Linked DNA regions of Homo sapiens: region 1 is linked to region 2. The links come from fine-mapping of genetic effects on gene expression. Tissue or cell type: whole blood. Region 2 holds a variant in brackets; the other region holds the start of a gene. All regions are shown on one strand. Distances are between the middles of the regions.

Region 1 (8,105 bases), 130 kb after region 2:
TTACAACCAGCTCTAAGACAGAAAGGCAGGGGATGATTAGAGGGCAAGAGACAGACAGAGCTTCTGTTTTCTGAGGCCTGCTTCTGAGGCTTAGAGTGCCCCAACATTCTAACAAAAGACTGTCTTTCACCTTTACTGCTCTGAAGCTGTCCCAAGGCCGCTTCAGGAACCTTGGACAAAGGACAAATACTTTAACAAAAGTTATGCTTACTGTTTTAGTCATTTAGGAAGTAATAAAGGCTATGGTAGTTATGAGCCAGGAACCATGGACAAAAACCGGTATTACATGTCATGGTATCATAATAAGTCATCTAGAGATGATTTAAAGTATATGGGAGAATGTGCATAGATTATATGCAAATACTACACCGTTTTATATCAGGGACTTGAGCATCTGTGAATTTTGGTATACGCAGGGGGTCCCAGAACCAATCCCCCAAAGACGCTGAGAGATGACTATATTTATGAAGCTAATAAAGTATTGTTATATTACTTTATTGAACAAGTATTTGCTGAATGCCTACTGTGTGCCAGATGCAATGCTAAGCACTAGGTGAACAGACACTGGTCCCCACCCTCCAAACAAGTAAACATACATTTATTATTGCAACTTGTAATTATTTGAGGGAAAGTAAATCAAGGTACTATGAAAGACAAAAAGAACTTATGTTAGTTAGACTTACTGAAGACGAAAGGCAACTTTGAAAAGGGACACAACCTTCAAGAACAGGTGGCCAGGTGTGGTGGCTCACGCCTGTAATCCCAGCACTTTGGGAGGCTGAGGCAGGCAAATCACCTGAGGTCAGGAATTCAAGACCAGTCTGGCCAACATGGAAACCCCGTCTCTACTAAAAATACATAAATTAGCTGGGCGTGGTGGCACACGCCTGTAATCCCAGCTACTTGGTAGGCTGAGGCAGGAGAATCTTGAACCCTGGAGGCACAGGTTGCAGTGAGCTGACATTGCGCCACTGTACTACAGCCTGGGTGACAGAGCAAGACTCCATCTCAAAAGCGAACTAAAAAAAGAACAATAAAAAGAAGAGAACAGGACGAGGGCGAGGAGGAAAGTATACCAGACAGAGGGTACCACAACGCAATGGTCCTCAGGAAGTGCTTAGAAGGTTAGAGGAGAAGGAAATACCTGTCAGTGGAAAGTGTGTGTCTGGGAGGTTGGGAGAGTGGCAAGTGGTAAGGCTGGGGAGTAGGTGAGGTTTTACAGGGTCTTGCAGGTCCTGGTAAGAGATGGAGATTTTCTCTAAGTACAATGGAAAGTCAATGAAGGGTTTTACCCAGGAGCGACATGTTCCAATCATTACTTAAGATCACTCCAGTTGCCATGTGGAGAACAGAATGGAGGCTGGGGAAGAGTGAACACTCAAAGGCTATTGCTTAATCCAGCCCAGAGGTGATGGACTACAAAGCTAACATTGGAGATGGTGAAAAGTAACTGCATTCAAAATATATTCTAGGGTGGAAACAACAGGACCACTGATGGACTGGATTTAGGGAGTGAAGAGAGAGGGCTAGATTTTTGGTCTATGCAATTGGATAGATGATGAGAAGAAGGTTAGAAACATACCTTTGAGAACCATCAGCACATAGATGGGTGAAATGACAGAGTGTGGAGAGAAAGGGTCCCAGGACTGAGCCCTAAGATACCACTCAACACTTAGACATCAAGCAAGAGAGGAACGGGACCCAGGGAAGGACACTGAAGTAGTCCTTGATGTAGGAGGAAATACGCAAAGGAACATACATCACAAGAAAAGGAAAGTTTCTAGAGTTTCTGTATTAACCACTGCTGAGAGATCAAGAAAGTTGAGGCCAGAAAATCAACCTCTGAATTTGACAAGATGGAGGGATCAGGTTTTTTTTTTTTTTTTTTTTGAGACAGTCTTGCCCTGTCACCTAGGCTGGAGTGCAGTGGCACAATTTGGTTCACTGCAACCCCTGCCTCCCGAGTTCAAGCGATTCTCCTGCCTCAGCCTCCTGAGTTACTGGGATTACAGGCGCCCACCACTACACCCAGTTAATTTTTGTATTTTTAGTAGAGAGGAGGTTATGCCATGTTGGCCAGGCTGGTCTCAAACTCCTGACCTCAGGGGATTCGCCCACTTCGGCCTCCTAAAGTGCTGCGATTATAGGCATGAGCCACCACGCCCCGCTGGTTCAGGTAATCTTAACAGTCATTCCCGTAGACCAGTGAGGATGAAAGCCCAACAGAATGGCTGAGAGAATGAGGGGCTAATCAGCACTTTCAAGAAGTTTTGTTGGGATGGGAAGCAGAAATGGAGTAAGAGGGGGACATGTATGTGGGGACGGAGGATTTTCTAAGATGAATTCTCTAAAGCAGGGTTGTATGCTCACAGGAAATGCTCTAGTAAAGAGGGAAAAATTAGTAATGATGGCTTGGACTAGAGTAAATTATATGAATAGTTTTTTAGGTTGCAGATGAAATCCCATCAGTGGGTTGCAAAATTAATTCAGTGGTTCAATTTTTTTTTTTTTTTTTTTTTAAGACAGAGCCTTACACTGTCACTCTGGCAGGAGTGTAGTGGCTCTATCTCAGCTCATTGCAGCCTCCTGGGATCAAGTGATCCTCCCATCTCAGCCTCGTAAGTAGCTGAGACTACAGGCATGAACCACCACACCCAGCTAACTTCTTAATTTTTTGCAGAGACAGGGTCTCCCTATGTTGCCCAGGCTGGTCTCCACCTCCCAGGTTCAAGTGATCCTTCTGCCTAAGCTTCCCAAAGTGCTGGGATTGCTGGTGTGAGCCACCACGGTTGGCCCCATTCATATTAATAAAAAATAGACAATATGAGAGTGTACGCCACACATTATTGTTTCATGAGCCTTTCATTTCAGTTACACAGACATATTGTGTTTAAAAAAAAATCGGAAGAGGCCAGGTGAAGTGGCTCACGCCTGCAATCCCAGGACTTTGGGAGTACAAAGCAGGAGGATCACTTGAGCTCAGGAGCTGGAGACCAGCCTGGGCTGTAGTGAGACCCTGCATCTACAAAACTTTTTTTAAAAAATTAGCGGTGAGTGATGGCGTGGGCCTGTAGTCCCAGCTACTGAAGAGGCTGAAGCAGGATTGCTTGAGTCCAGAAAGTGAGGCTGCAGTGAACCATGATTACACCCCGCCTGGGGGACAGAGCAAGACCCTGTTTCTTAAGAAAAAACAATTAATTAAAAATGTAAAAATGTGAAATGCCATAGTACATATAACCATTAAACATGAGGCAAAAGAACATAAAGGAAACTGTATCAAATAATCAGTTCAAAGAGAACACAAGATAGTAATACCTACAAATTAATATCAACCGTATAAAGCCCACATTCAGAGTAGATGCAAAATCTTCCATTTGCACCAGGCGCAACGAGCAAGCATGGAAAAGACCACGTGGAGTTAAACTGTCAGAAAATCTTTTACCCTCGCCTTGCACACACACCCACACACCCCCTGCTGTTTCTCTGGTCCCAGTCCTGGTTCACGTCCTTCCCTTCTCCACCCCAAAACCAGCCCCTTCCCTCACAGTGTTTACTGCTCCCATCAAATTCCGAGGGCAGCTCTTCCGAGGGCTCTCCAGGGGCCTACAGCTGCAAGCAGAGCTCTACCCGGCCCTGATTCGTCTCTCCTCCACCTACTTTCAGGGCGGACAGACTCAGGCCTTTATAGCCTTCTAAGTCCGGGGTCGGATACCAGACTGGGCTCCACCCCCGCACTGTGACCCAGAAACGCTGGTAAACGAATGAGAGAAGGAGGGGGCACATTGAAAGGCAGCCGGACACGGAAGTGCTCGGCCCCGCACCAGACACGGCGTGGAGGGGAAGCGAAGGTTCGGAAGGGCAAAGCGAGAGTCCCGTTCGTCCCCGTCACCACCCCGCGGCCCTCCCGGACAGGGCCGGCCCGCTGCCCTCACTCCCGTACGAGGGTCGCCCAGTCCCCACGGCTCTCGGCTCTCAGCTCTCAGCGGTCAAACCGTTGGGCTCCTCGGGCGAAAAGGGACGCGCCCGAGAAGACTTACACTTCCATGACGTCCCGCCTCGTCGCCCCTAGCTGCCAGCAGACAAAGAACCTCACACTTCACAGCTGTCTCCGCCGCCACCAACAGCGCCAAGGTGCCAGCTCCGCGCGCCAAGGTGCTCGCCGGGATCGCCGCGCTGCATGCCGGGAGCTTGGCGGACCCGGAACCTCGCGCTGCGCGTTCCCCTTTTTCGGGGGGCAGGGTGGGGGAGTGTCCCTGCATCCTTCCACCAGGCCGATTTAAGACTGCTAAGCGTTTGCGGACAGGATTATCTTGTGTTTTCTTTTCTTTTTTTCTTTAACCTTTTTTTTTTTTTGAGACGGAGTCTCGCTCTGTCGCCCAGGCTGGATCTCGGCTTACTGCAACCTCCGCCTCCTGGGTTCAAGCGATTCTCCTTCTGCCTCAGCCTCCCAAGTAGCTGGGACTACAGGCGCTTGCCACCAAGCCCGGCTAATTTTTTGTGTTTTTAGTAGAGACGGGGTTTCACCGTGTTAGCCAGGATGGTTTCAATCTCCTGACCTCGTGATCCGCCCGCCTCGGCCTCCCAAAGTCCTGGGATTACAGGCGTGAGGCACCGTGCCCAGCCTCTTTTTTTCTTTTTTGAGACAGAGTCTCGCTCTGTCACCCAGGCTGGAGTGCAGTGGCACGATCTCGGCTCACTGCAATCTCTGCCTCCCAGGTTCAAGCAATTCCCTGCCTCAGCCTCCCGAGTAGCTGGGATTACAGGCGCCCGCCATAACGCCTAGCTAATTTGTGTATTTTTTAGTAGAGACGGGGTTTCATCATCTTGGCCAGGCTAGTCTTGAACTCCTGACCTCGTGATCCACCCGCTTCGGCCTCCCAAAGTGTTGGGATTACAGGCGTGAGCCACCTCGCCGGGCTCTGTCTGTTTTCGTGGTCTAGGTTTTAACAAAGTATTAATCAGCTGAAGTTGTGAGACGTGATCGGGTTAGTGGGCCTTTGCATGTTAAAATCCCACCTCTCAGAGAGTAGTGAGGCTGGTGGCATCTGGGCTGCCAGAAACATTGCAGTTTATTTATTTATTTTTTAAGAGACAGGGTCTTGCTCTGTCGCCCAGGCTGGAATGCAGTGGTGCAATCAGAGCTCACTGCAGCCTTGAACTCCTGGGCTCAAGCAATCCTCCCACCCCAGCCTGCCAGAGTAGCTGGGACCACAGGTGCGCTCCGCTACACCTGGCTAATTTTCTTTTTTTCTTTTTCTTTTTCTTTTTTTTTTTTTTTGAGATCAGTCTCACTCTGTTGCCCAGGCTGGAGTGCAGTGTCGTGATCTCGGCTCATTGCAACCTCTGCCTCCTGGATTCAAGCAGTTCCCTGCCTCAGCCTCCCCAGTAGCTAGGATTACAGGTGCCCGCCATAATGCCCAGCTAATTTTTGTATTTTTTTAGTAGAGACGGGGTTTCACCATCTTGGCCAAGCTGGTCTTGAACTCCTGACCTTGTGATCCACCCTCATCAGCCTCCCAAAGTGTTGGGATTACAGGCGTGAGCCACTGCACCCAGCCACCTGGCTAATTTTCTAAAATAAAATTCTTTATTGTCCAAAGAGTCAGCTACAAAATTTTTTAATTTTTTTGTAGAGATGGGGGTCTCACTGTGTTGCCCAGGCTGGTCTTGAACTCCTCGCCTCAAGTGATCCTCCCACCTCCAACTCCCAAAGTGCTGGGATTACAGGTGTGAACCACCACAATAGCCTCTGTTGCCTACTTTGTAAATAATAAGGGTGTTAAATAATCCTTATAAAGTTCCTGGCACTTTATTAATTACTGTGGCAATACAACCATGACTCTCTATGAGGTACATTGCATTATTATTGACATTTTATAATTGAAGAAACTGAGGCAGACTTGGAGAGATTATGATTTACCAAAAGTCACTCATCTAGGAAGTTGTCCAGTGGGTATTGAACCCCAGCCAATCTGAACATATACAACAGATGCATTAACTAGAGACTGATGAGTGGATGAATAAAATGTGCTACATTTGTGCAATGGAAAACTACTTAAAAAGGAGGCTGGCCGGGCACGGTGGCTCACGCCTGTAATCCCAGCACTTTGGGAGGCCGAGGCGGGCAGATCACGATGTCAGGAGATCGAGACCATCCTGGCTAACAGGGTGAAACCCCGTCTCTACTAAAAATACAAAAAAAATTAGCCGGGCGTGGTGGTGGGCGCCTGTAGTCCCAGCTACTAGGGAGGCTGAGGCAGGAGAATGGCGTGAACCCAGAAGGCAGAGCTTGCAGTGAGCCAAGATCGTGCCACTGCACTCCAGCCTGGAAGACAGGGCAAGACTCTGTCTCAAAAATATAAAAATAAAAAGGAGGCCAGGCTTGATCTCAGCACTTTGGGGAGCAGAGGCAGGAGGATTTCTTGAGACAAGGAGTTCCAGAGCAGCCTGGGCAACATAGCTAGACCCCCTAACTACGAAAAGTTAGCCAGGTGTGGTGGTGAGCACCTCTAGTCCCAGCTACTGGGGAGGCTGAGGTAGGAGAATCGCTTGAGCCAGAAGGTAGAGGCTGCAGGGAACTATGATCACACCACTGCACTCCAGCCTACAGAGTGAGAGACCTTGTTGCAAAAAATATATATAGACAGACTGATAGATAAATGCTGCAAGATGGATAACCTCCCAAAACATGATGCTATTAATAAGTGAAAGAAGCCAGACACAAAATAATATATATTGCCTGGCCAGGTGGCTCACGCCTGTAATCCCAGCACTTTGGGTGGCTGAGGTGGGTGGATCATCTGAGATCAGGAGTTCAAGACCAGCCTGGCTAACATGGGGAAACCCTGTCTCTACCGAAAATACAAAAATCGCCAGGCGTGGTGGCTCACGCCTGTAATCCCAGCACTTTAGGAGACTGAGGCAGGCAGATCATGAGGTCAGTAGTTCGAGACCAGCCTAGCCAACATGGTGAAACCCCGTCTCTACTAAAAATACAAAAAGTAGCTGGGTGTGGTGGGGGGCACCTGTAATCCCAGCTACTCGGGAGACTGAGGCAGGAAAATTGCTTGAACCCAGGAGGCGGAGGTTGCAGTGAGCCGAGATCACGCCACTGCACTCCAGCCTGGGTGACAGAATGAGACTCCTTCTAGAAAAAAAAAAAAAAGAATACATATGGTATGATTCACTTTATATAGAATGTCCAAGAAGAGGCCAATCTATGGATACAGACAGAAGGCTAGGTTGGGGGCAAGGATGGGAAGTGATTGCTAATAAGTAGGGAGTTTCTCTTTGGGAAACAGAAATTGTCTAAAATTATTATAGATGGTGGTGGTGGTTGCACAACCCTGTGAATATACTGAAGACACTGAGTTGTATACTTTAAATGGCATATTGTACAGCATATTAATCCTATATTAATAAAGCTGTTAAACATTTTTTACTCTGCTGAGTGTGGTGGTCCACACCTGTAATCCCAGCACTTTGGAAGATGAAGGCAGGTGGATCGCTTGAGCCCAGTTTGAGACCAGCATGGGCAACATGGTGAAACCTCATCTTTACCAAAAAAATAGAAATTAACCAGCTTGATGGCTCGTGCCTGTAATCGTAGCTACTCAGGAGGCTGAGGCAGGAGCATCGTCTGAATCTGGGAGGCGGAGGTTGCAGATCACGCCACTGCACTCCAGCCTGGGTGACAGAGCAAGACTCCATCGCAAAATAACGACAACAAAAAAGTCATAAAATGCCACCCAGACCCAGCTGGCCTAGTTAGTGTGGAGAATTCCCTGTACCTTCGCTGAGGAGATTGGGCCCCACAAAGAAATGCTAAAGATGCCCCTTGTGTTATTCACTCAACAAGTATGTAGCCATGGCCCATCGGGGGCTGATGATACAAATGTGACTAACACACACCCTCTGCACTGGCTAGCTGACAGCCTAGTTGAGGAACCAGCTCTGGACATAAATAACCACAATGCATTGTGTTTCGACGCGATGGGCAGGGGAGGGAATGACTAATGAGGTGGAGAGGCGTCCCAAAGCCACGGGCCTTTGAAGTGGGTGAGGGAAAAGCACACGAGGCCGAGGGATTGGGTATGGGCTTCAGT
Region 2 (8,105 bases):
ATAGATGGTTCCGGGAAACTGGTCATCTTTATAGAAAAAATATGAAAATGAATCTGCACCTCACACAAGAAAATAAATTCCATATTGATTAATAAATTCCAGATTAACATGAAAAGAAATTTGTTTTAAGTTTTGGAAAAAACATGGGAAACTATTTTTATGACCTCAGAGTATGGAAGAATTTTTTTACAAAAAATTCTAAAGAAAAAGATTGGTAAATACAAGTTTAAAACTTAAATTCATCAAAAGATTTTTCTTATTTTTCTTAATTCTGTTAAAGTGAGGTCATTGACAAAAAAGATATTAAAAAGGAAGTTAAAAGATAAGCTACTGGCCGGGCACGGTGGCTCACGCCTGTAATCCCAGCACTTTGGGAGGCCGAGGTGGGCGGATCACAAGGTCAGGAGATCGAGATCATCCTGGCTAACACCCCGTCTCTACTAAAAATACAAAAAATTAGCCGGGCATGGTGGTGGGCGCCTGCAGTCCCTGCTACTTGGGAGACTGAGGCAGGAGAATGGTGTGAGCTTGCAGTGGGCAGAGATCGCGCCACTGCACTCCAGCCTGGGCGACAGAGCGAGACTCCGTCTCAAAAAAAAAAAAAAAAGGCTGGGCGCGGTGGCTCAAGCCTGTAATCCCAGCACTTTGGGAGGCCGAGGCGGGTAGATCACGAGGTCAGGAGATCGAGACCATCCTGATTAACACAGTGAAACCCTGTCTCTACTAAAAAATACAAAAAAATAGCCGGGTGTGGTGGCAGGCGCCTGTAGTCCCAGCTACTTGGGAGGCTGAGGCAGGAGAATGGCGTGAACCCGGGAGGCGGAGCTTGCAGTGAGCCGAGATCGCACCACTGCACTCTAGCCTGGGCGACAGAGCGAGACTCCATCTCAAAAAACAAAAAAGAAAAACAAGTGGAATATGCATACTGCTCATAATCCAGCTATTCTAATCCAAAGTGTATATCTTAGAGAAACTCTTGAAGGAAACACCTTCAAAAATGTCCTTAGCTCCAAACTAAAAACAATCCAAATGTTCATCAATAGTAAAAATGTATAAATAATCTATATTATACCAGAGAATAGTATTTTGGCAATTAAAACTGATGATATAGCTATATACCACAACACAGGTAAATCTCAAAAGAAAATGTTAGGCCAGAGAAAAAAAAAAAGAACCTGACCGAAAAAAACACAGACCATGATCCCATTTATATAAAGTTTACCAACAGGCAAACTAAACAAAGAAACAAAGGAAAAAGGGAAAACATGACAATGAAATATCAAAGGTCACCTCCAAGTAGTTTCAGAGATTATTGTTACTGTAATGCCAGCATTCCCAACCTGCCATGTTAGTTTCCTACTAGAGCTATTCAAATCGGGTGCTTACTTTGCTTCATTGAGACAAACATTTCATGACTTCAAGACTACCTTTGCCCTAAACAAGCTTACAGGAGCATGTGTAAGAACATTAACAAAAGCCTGTGGTGCACTTGCTACTAACCTAGGTGTTTCACACTCATTATTTTGGGATGGGGAGAGGGAGGGGAACAGTGCATAAGCGTTCGACAATAAAAATAACATACTAATAAGTACCACTTTGAACAATTTCTATGTGCCAGGTGCTATTCTAAAGGCTTTGTAGTAATTTAATTCTCACAACTCTATAAATACTACTTACCATCATCTGCAATCGGTATTATTATCATCCTTATTATTATAATAATAAAGACAACAGGTAACATTTTCAACCTCTCATTATATACCAGGCACTTGGCTAAGGGCTTTATAGTCATTCTAACTAAATCCTCACGACAACCCTATGGATAGTTATTATTATCATCCTTAATGGATACTATTTCAGTAAGCCTTTATCCACAGTTTCAGGTAGTTCTCTGCAGTCAACTGTGGTCTGAAAACATTAAATGGGAAACTCCAGAAATAAACAACTCATAAGTTTTAAATTGCATGTCATTCTCAGTAGCATGATGAAATCTAACATTGTCTCACTCTGTCTAGACTGGGATGTAAATCATCCCTTTGTTCAACACGTCCATGCAATGTACACTCACTACCCACCATTAGTCACTTAGTAGCCCTCTGTTATCAGATGGACTGTAGCAGTATCGCAGTGCTTACGTTGAAGTAACTCTTGTTTAACTTAATCATGGCCATAAAGCTCAAAAGTAGTAATACTGGCATATTGTTATAATTGTTCTACTTTATAATTAGTTACTGCTGTTAATCTTACTGTGCTTGATTTATAAATTAACCACAGGTATATATGCACAGGAAAAAACATAGTATATATAGGGCTCGGTACCATCAGTGGGGTTTCGGGCATCCACTGGGGTCTTGGAACATATCATCTGCAGATAAGGGGGATCTAACATATTATCATTCCCATTTCCAGGATAAGAAAACTAAAGGAAAGATGAGATAACCAAGACTAGACAAAACCAAATAACTCACTCAAGGTCACATAATCAATAAAGGACAGTGCTAGGATTTGAACCTATGTCTGTCTGACTCTAAAACGTGTGCTTAGCCACTGTCACACTGTTTTAGTTTGTCTTCATAAATGCTGTAAGTATATACAACAAGAGCTAAAAGTATAGATGAAGACAAAGACCTGAGTCCACAGCCTGGCTCTACCATCTTCCAACTGTGGGACGGAGGACAAGCTCCTCAACTTCTGGGAGCCTCAAGTCCCTCATCTATAAAATTAAGATGTTTAAGGCACCTATGGGTGAGTGTGAAAGGGTAAATATAAAAACTAAATGAGATAAGGCACACAGAGAGCTCAGCATACTGCCTGGCACATAACAAATGTTCAGTAGATGTTGGATGGTATCATTACCATCATCACCATCTTCCCTGTTTTATAGATAAGAAAATGGAGACACGGAGAGAGATAGTATTTGATGCAATGTTACAAAACCAGTTAGTGTCAATGAAAGACTTTAAACAAAGTCTAGCCAGCTTCAAAGTATCAACCCTTTTCCATTTGCCAAGTGTCTCATGAAAGCATAGGAAGTACATCCCAGACAGAGGGGGGCCTTGGAGAGATCTTCCTTAGGGAAAGGAAACCTGAACTAAATCTTGAAATACAACCATGAGTTGGTCAGATGAAGAAATGAAGTGAGAGAAAGGTGTTGCAGGCACAGGAAACAACACATTCAAAGGAACTGATTAAATAAATGGTGTGGCAATAATTGTAGCTACAATTATTTCAGTGTGGCTGCAGCCCAGGCTGTAGGGGCAAGAAAGTCTGAGTCCACAAATGAAGCAAACAAAACGTAGCATGATTTTAAGCAGTGGTTCTCAAAGTGAAATCAGGCCAGGAACATTAGCATCACCGGGAAACCTGTTAGAAGCGCAAGTTCTTGGGCCTATCCCAGACCTCCTGAATCAGAAATTTTAGGTCTTTTAAAGGTTCTGTATGTGATTGTGATGAATGGTTGATGTTTGAAAACATGATTTTCAGCAATGAGGAAATGTAAGGATGTTTTCAAAAACAATGAAATAATTCTTCATTAGACAGGTAATTCAGAAAAGGACCAAGGAGGAACCATGAATTCATGTATAATATCTGGATGGGTACCAACCATAATTCCCTTGATGTGCTTGGCTTTTCTTTGACAGTAGTTAATCAATGTAATAGGTTACTCTACTTAAAGATCCAATTTGCCCTACACTTCATCTTGGCAAAATACTCTGAACTAGGCTTACATTTTAAATCTTAAAAAAAAAAAAGAATTTTTTTAAAAAAAACAGGAATCTTCTAAGTTTTATACCTCATTATGGACTGAATGTTTGTGTCCCCCCAAATTCATGTTAAAACCTAATCACCAATGTGACTGTATTAGGAGATGGGAACTTGGGAAGTGTCCTTATTAGTGCACTTACAAAAGAGGCCAGGGAGAGATTCTTCACCTCCTTTACCATGTGAGGACACAAGGTGCCATCTATGAACCAGACAGCAGGCCCTTACTAGATGCTGAATCCATCAGTGCCTGATCTTGGACATCCCAGCCTCCAAAACTGCGAGAAATCAACTTCTGTGTTTGTAAGAACCCAGTTTGTGGTATTTTGTTATAGCAGCCCAAATGGACTAAGACATACCCTAAAATGCCTATTAAAACTAAATGTTTTGAGCCAGGCACGGTGGCTCACGCCTATAATCCCAGCACTTTGGGAGGCCGAGGCAGGCGGATCATGAGGTCAGGAGATCAAGGCCATCCTGGCTAACATGGTGAAACCCCATCTCTATTAAAAACACACACACA[A/C]AAAAAAAATTAGCTGGGTGTGGTGGCACGCACCTGCAATCCCAGCTACTCAGGAAGCTGAGGCAGAAGAGTCACTTGAACTCGTGAGGCAGAGGTTGCAGTGAGCCGAGATCATGCCATTGCACTCCAGCCCAGAAGACAGTGCGAGACTCTGTCTCAAAAAAAAAAAAAAAAAACACTAAATGTTTTTATAAACCAATATAATCCCAATTAAAAGTGTATCAGTTTTGTAAATTTTACACATTACAATCAATGTTTTTCTTTTAAAAACAAAATTGTAGTTTTGCAATTCCATGAGCTTCACTTCAGTTTTCTTTGTTAAATCCAACCAAAATTAAATGCTGCCTAAAGGAGGGCCACTTCACTTCCAAGTACATCATCTACCAAGGTTCCGAACAAGATTTCACTTGAAAAAAAGGGTGCTCCACTAATAAGAGAAGTCTGAAGGCAACTGGCTTAAAATTCAATATCTTTAGCTTAAAATATAAGGCCCTCCAAAGCCTGGTCCGCATCATTTCTCTCAAACCTTGTTTCACACTACTTCCTGCCTGGAAATGAACTCTCTAGCAAAAAACACCACATTGTTACTCATCTTTGTTAAGGTGTTCATATTGTAACTTCTCAATGATTATTTCCTGATTTGGTTTTGTTTTACTTATTTTTCAAAAATATATTTTTCAAAAATATATTCACCTATGGGAAACAAACACCATGTTCTAGGTCCAGGTGGGACTAAGCTTAGCTGACTTCCATTATATGGTCAAGAGGGTAGGGTCCATAGGTCAGGCATAACAGGGCGTAGTTGTTCCTTAGGTCCTTTTGAGGCCCTGGGTTGGGCCAGGAGTGAAGCCACAAGGAGTCCTCCATACTACCTCTTCCCTTTGAATTCTGTAAACCACAGTTAGGCACAGGCTTCTCCCAGGAGTAACATTTCTTGGGTGGCTCATTGGCTAAGGAAAAGGAAAGACATTCTGGACAGTCAAGGAAGAACTACAGCGCCTTAACCATGGGTCACCCAGGGAGCACAATATTCCCTAAGTCAAAACTAAATGCGCTTCCCTTTATCTGTTGATCATCTTGGATGGCTGCCACAACAAATAATTATCTGACTAAAATGTCATACCAAGCTTGAGGAAACCCTTCTTTAGGGCTCAGTTTCATGACACATTGCCCAAGATGACCTCTCTGAACACCTCAGACTGGGTTAGGCACCTCTCCTTGGTTTTCCATAGTTCTTTGTTGTTGTTGTTGTTGTTCAGAGTTTTGCTCTGTCACCCAGGCTGGAGTGCAGTGGCACGACCTCAGCTCACTGGAACCTCCACCTCCCAGGTTCAAGTGATTCTCCTGCCTCAGCCTCCCGAGTAGCTGGGTTTACAGGCATGGGCCACCACCCCTGGCTAATTTTTGTATTTTTAGTAGAGATGGGGTTTCACCATGTTGGTCAGGCTGGTCTTGAACTACTGCCCTCAGGTGATCTGCCCACCCCAGCCTCCCAAAGTGCTGGGATTACAGGTGTGAGCCACTGTGCCTGGCCTCTTTTTGTTTGTTTTTAATTATTCACCAATGAAGAAGCAGTGGTGACCATAGTTCTTAACCCTGCATTATATATGAATCTAAGTCTTCTATTAGATCATATGTTCCTTTAAGGCAAAGACCTTTTATCTCAAGGAGCTAACACAGTGTCTGGCACATAGTAGGTGCTCAATAATGTAGCAGAGACTACTATCTGCCTATCCCAATATCCAATTGATTTTTCTTAGTAAAAGGAACCCCAGTTATGGCCAGTGAAAAGCAAGAAGTACTACCTGGAAGCTTCTAAGAAATATCCTCAAAAAATACTAAACGCCATTTGTTTTACACACATCCACCCCTGCTGTGCTGCTTAGAATGTAGATGAAATGACTGGCGCTCCAACTTGGATCCTGGGGATGATGGAGACAAAAGCTGGAAGCAGCCTAAATGCCAGATGACTGCAAAGCTGACAAAGCAGCCCTGGTCTGCCTTCTACATAGTAGTCATTATTTGGAAATCTTTGTTATTTTGGATCTCTACTATTTGTAGAGAAATCTAATCAAACTAATAAATGATCTGATATCCAACTTCTAATTTTTGCTACCAATTGCTATATTCTCCAAGAAAAGTACAAATGTTGCCTTATTAATTCATGTTCTGGTTCTGCTTCTTCTCAATCTTTCCCTGACACACTTTGAAATGCAATGTTTCATCAGCTCTCTGATTTCCTTTCACAGCCCATTTTACTCTGTCACTTGTATCCCTTGTTTATTCAATTCCTCCTCTCCAGCTAAGATGTCTCAGTCACTTCTCTCTTCAATATAGCTTGTAAAAGGAGGCTGGGCATGGCAGCTCACAGCGGTAATCCCAGCACTTTGGGAGGCCATGGCAGGAAGACTGCTTGAGGCCAGGAGTTCGAATCCAGCCTGGGTAACACATAGTGAGACCCTGTCTCCACCAAAAAAAAAAAAAAAAAAAAAAAAAAAAATTAGCCAGGCATGATGGCATGCACCTGTAATCCCAGCTACTAACAGGAAGCTAAGGTGGGAAGATCATTTGAACCCAGGAGTTCAAGGCTGCAGTGAGCTACAATCTTGCCACTATACTCCAGCCTGGGTGATGGAGCAAGACCCTGTCTCCAAAAAAAAAACCAAAAAAGACACAACCCCAATAGCCCAATAGCATCCTTAGGCAGTGCCTTCACAAAGGAGAAGTTTTCACAAATAAACAGACTTGTTCTCTGATAGCTTCATGAAAACAAAAACAAAAACAAAACACCACATGTAATATTTATAAAATTCTTCTGGGATATTTCAGACTGAGCTAGTAGAGCTCAGGTGATCCTAATTTGCCTGCTGTTAATTTTCCATGCTATTAATGCTCATATCTTTGTGAATATGGTCTGTCATTCTCTTCACTTGCTCAAAATATTCTTGTTATCCTTAAATTTCAGAAGAATTTCAAGTGGCTATTGAGTTATCTTTCTGTTAATCCCATAAGACATAAGAATTTTAAGTTTCCAAACTGACAAAGATTCTTTGTGTGACCAAACTTCAGTCAGGCTCCTGAACCTTCTCCTAGGACCATCTGTGCACTTCTTTATAAAATCCAGTTTTAGCAAAGAACCCTGCTAAGGCAGTTTAGCAAGAACCTCCTACCCTTGATATCTAATCACTCTCAGGATCTGATCGGGTTTCTCATCCTCCACCACCCTCCAGGTGATGTCTGATCACCCCGGCCTGTCTTCAGTGAGAATCCTATCAGGTAAATTTAGCCAGAATGCCCCTGACCCCTGATGTTTCCTCGTAGTAATTTTCCATCCACTGACCCTCACCTTACTCTCTGGCTACAAATTCTCACTTGCCCATGCTGTATTCAGAGTTAAGTCCAATCTCTATTCCCCACTGCAAGACCCGACTGCAGTGGTCCCTGTACCTCCTGCAGTGGTGCTAAATAAACACTGCCTCATGCCTTAGCAGGTATCACTGAATAATTTTTTCTTTAACAAAACTAAATTTCACTTTCTATATTAAAAAGAAAGTTATGAATTTAATAAATTACTAATTATTCTTCCTACTTCCTCAAAAATGTCTCCATTTCCAAAAACCTTTTTACATTATTTTCACTCATTTATTCAGTCTTTCTTTGCTTTTGATCTGATTTAGAGGATTTTTTGTCTGCTTTACTTATTAGAAGCTGTAGGGTGTCAGTTTTCATGTTCTTATTTGTTCTCTTGTACTTATCACTACTATTATCTTTTTCATTCTAATTTATTTGTGTTTAATAGTTGCTATATTCTCTTTCTGCC

The links. PIP is the estimated chance that this variant, and not a neighbour inherited with it, causes the effect.
Region 1: it holds the start of CRCP, and the variant in region 2 is fine-mapped to the expression of CRCP in whole blood (INTERVAL, PIP above 0.99).

What each region holds. Positions count from the first base shown.
Region 1 is chr7:66,110,903-66,119,007 of GRCh38, reverse strand. CRCP (CGRP receptor component) reads right to left here and starts at 4,161. Exons shown (of 6, transcript NM_014478.5): 1 at 4,038-4,161. The coding sequence starts at 4,045. RefSeq lists silencers at 3,372-3,666, 5,095-5,285 and enhancers at 3,253-3,781, 4,319-4,448.
Region 2 is chr7:66,244,860-66,252,964 of GRCh38, reverse strand. The region is part of intron 2 of TPST1 (tyrosylprotein sulfotransferase 1); the gene reads right to left. Among named protein-coding and RNA genes, the nearest start is that of TPST1, 44 kb to the right of the region's middle. The variant A/C (reference allele first, on the strand shown) is at 4,286.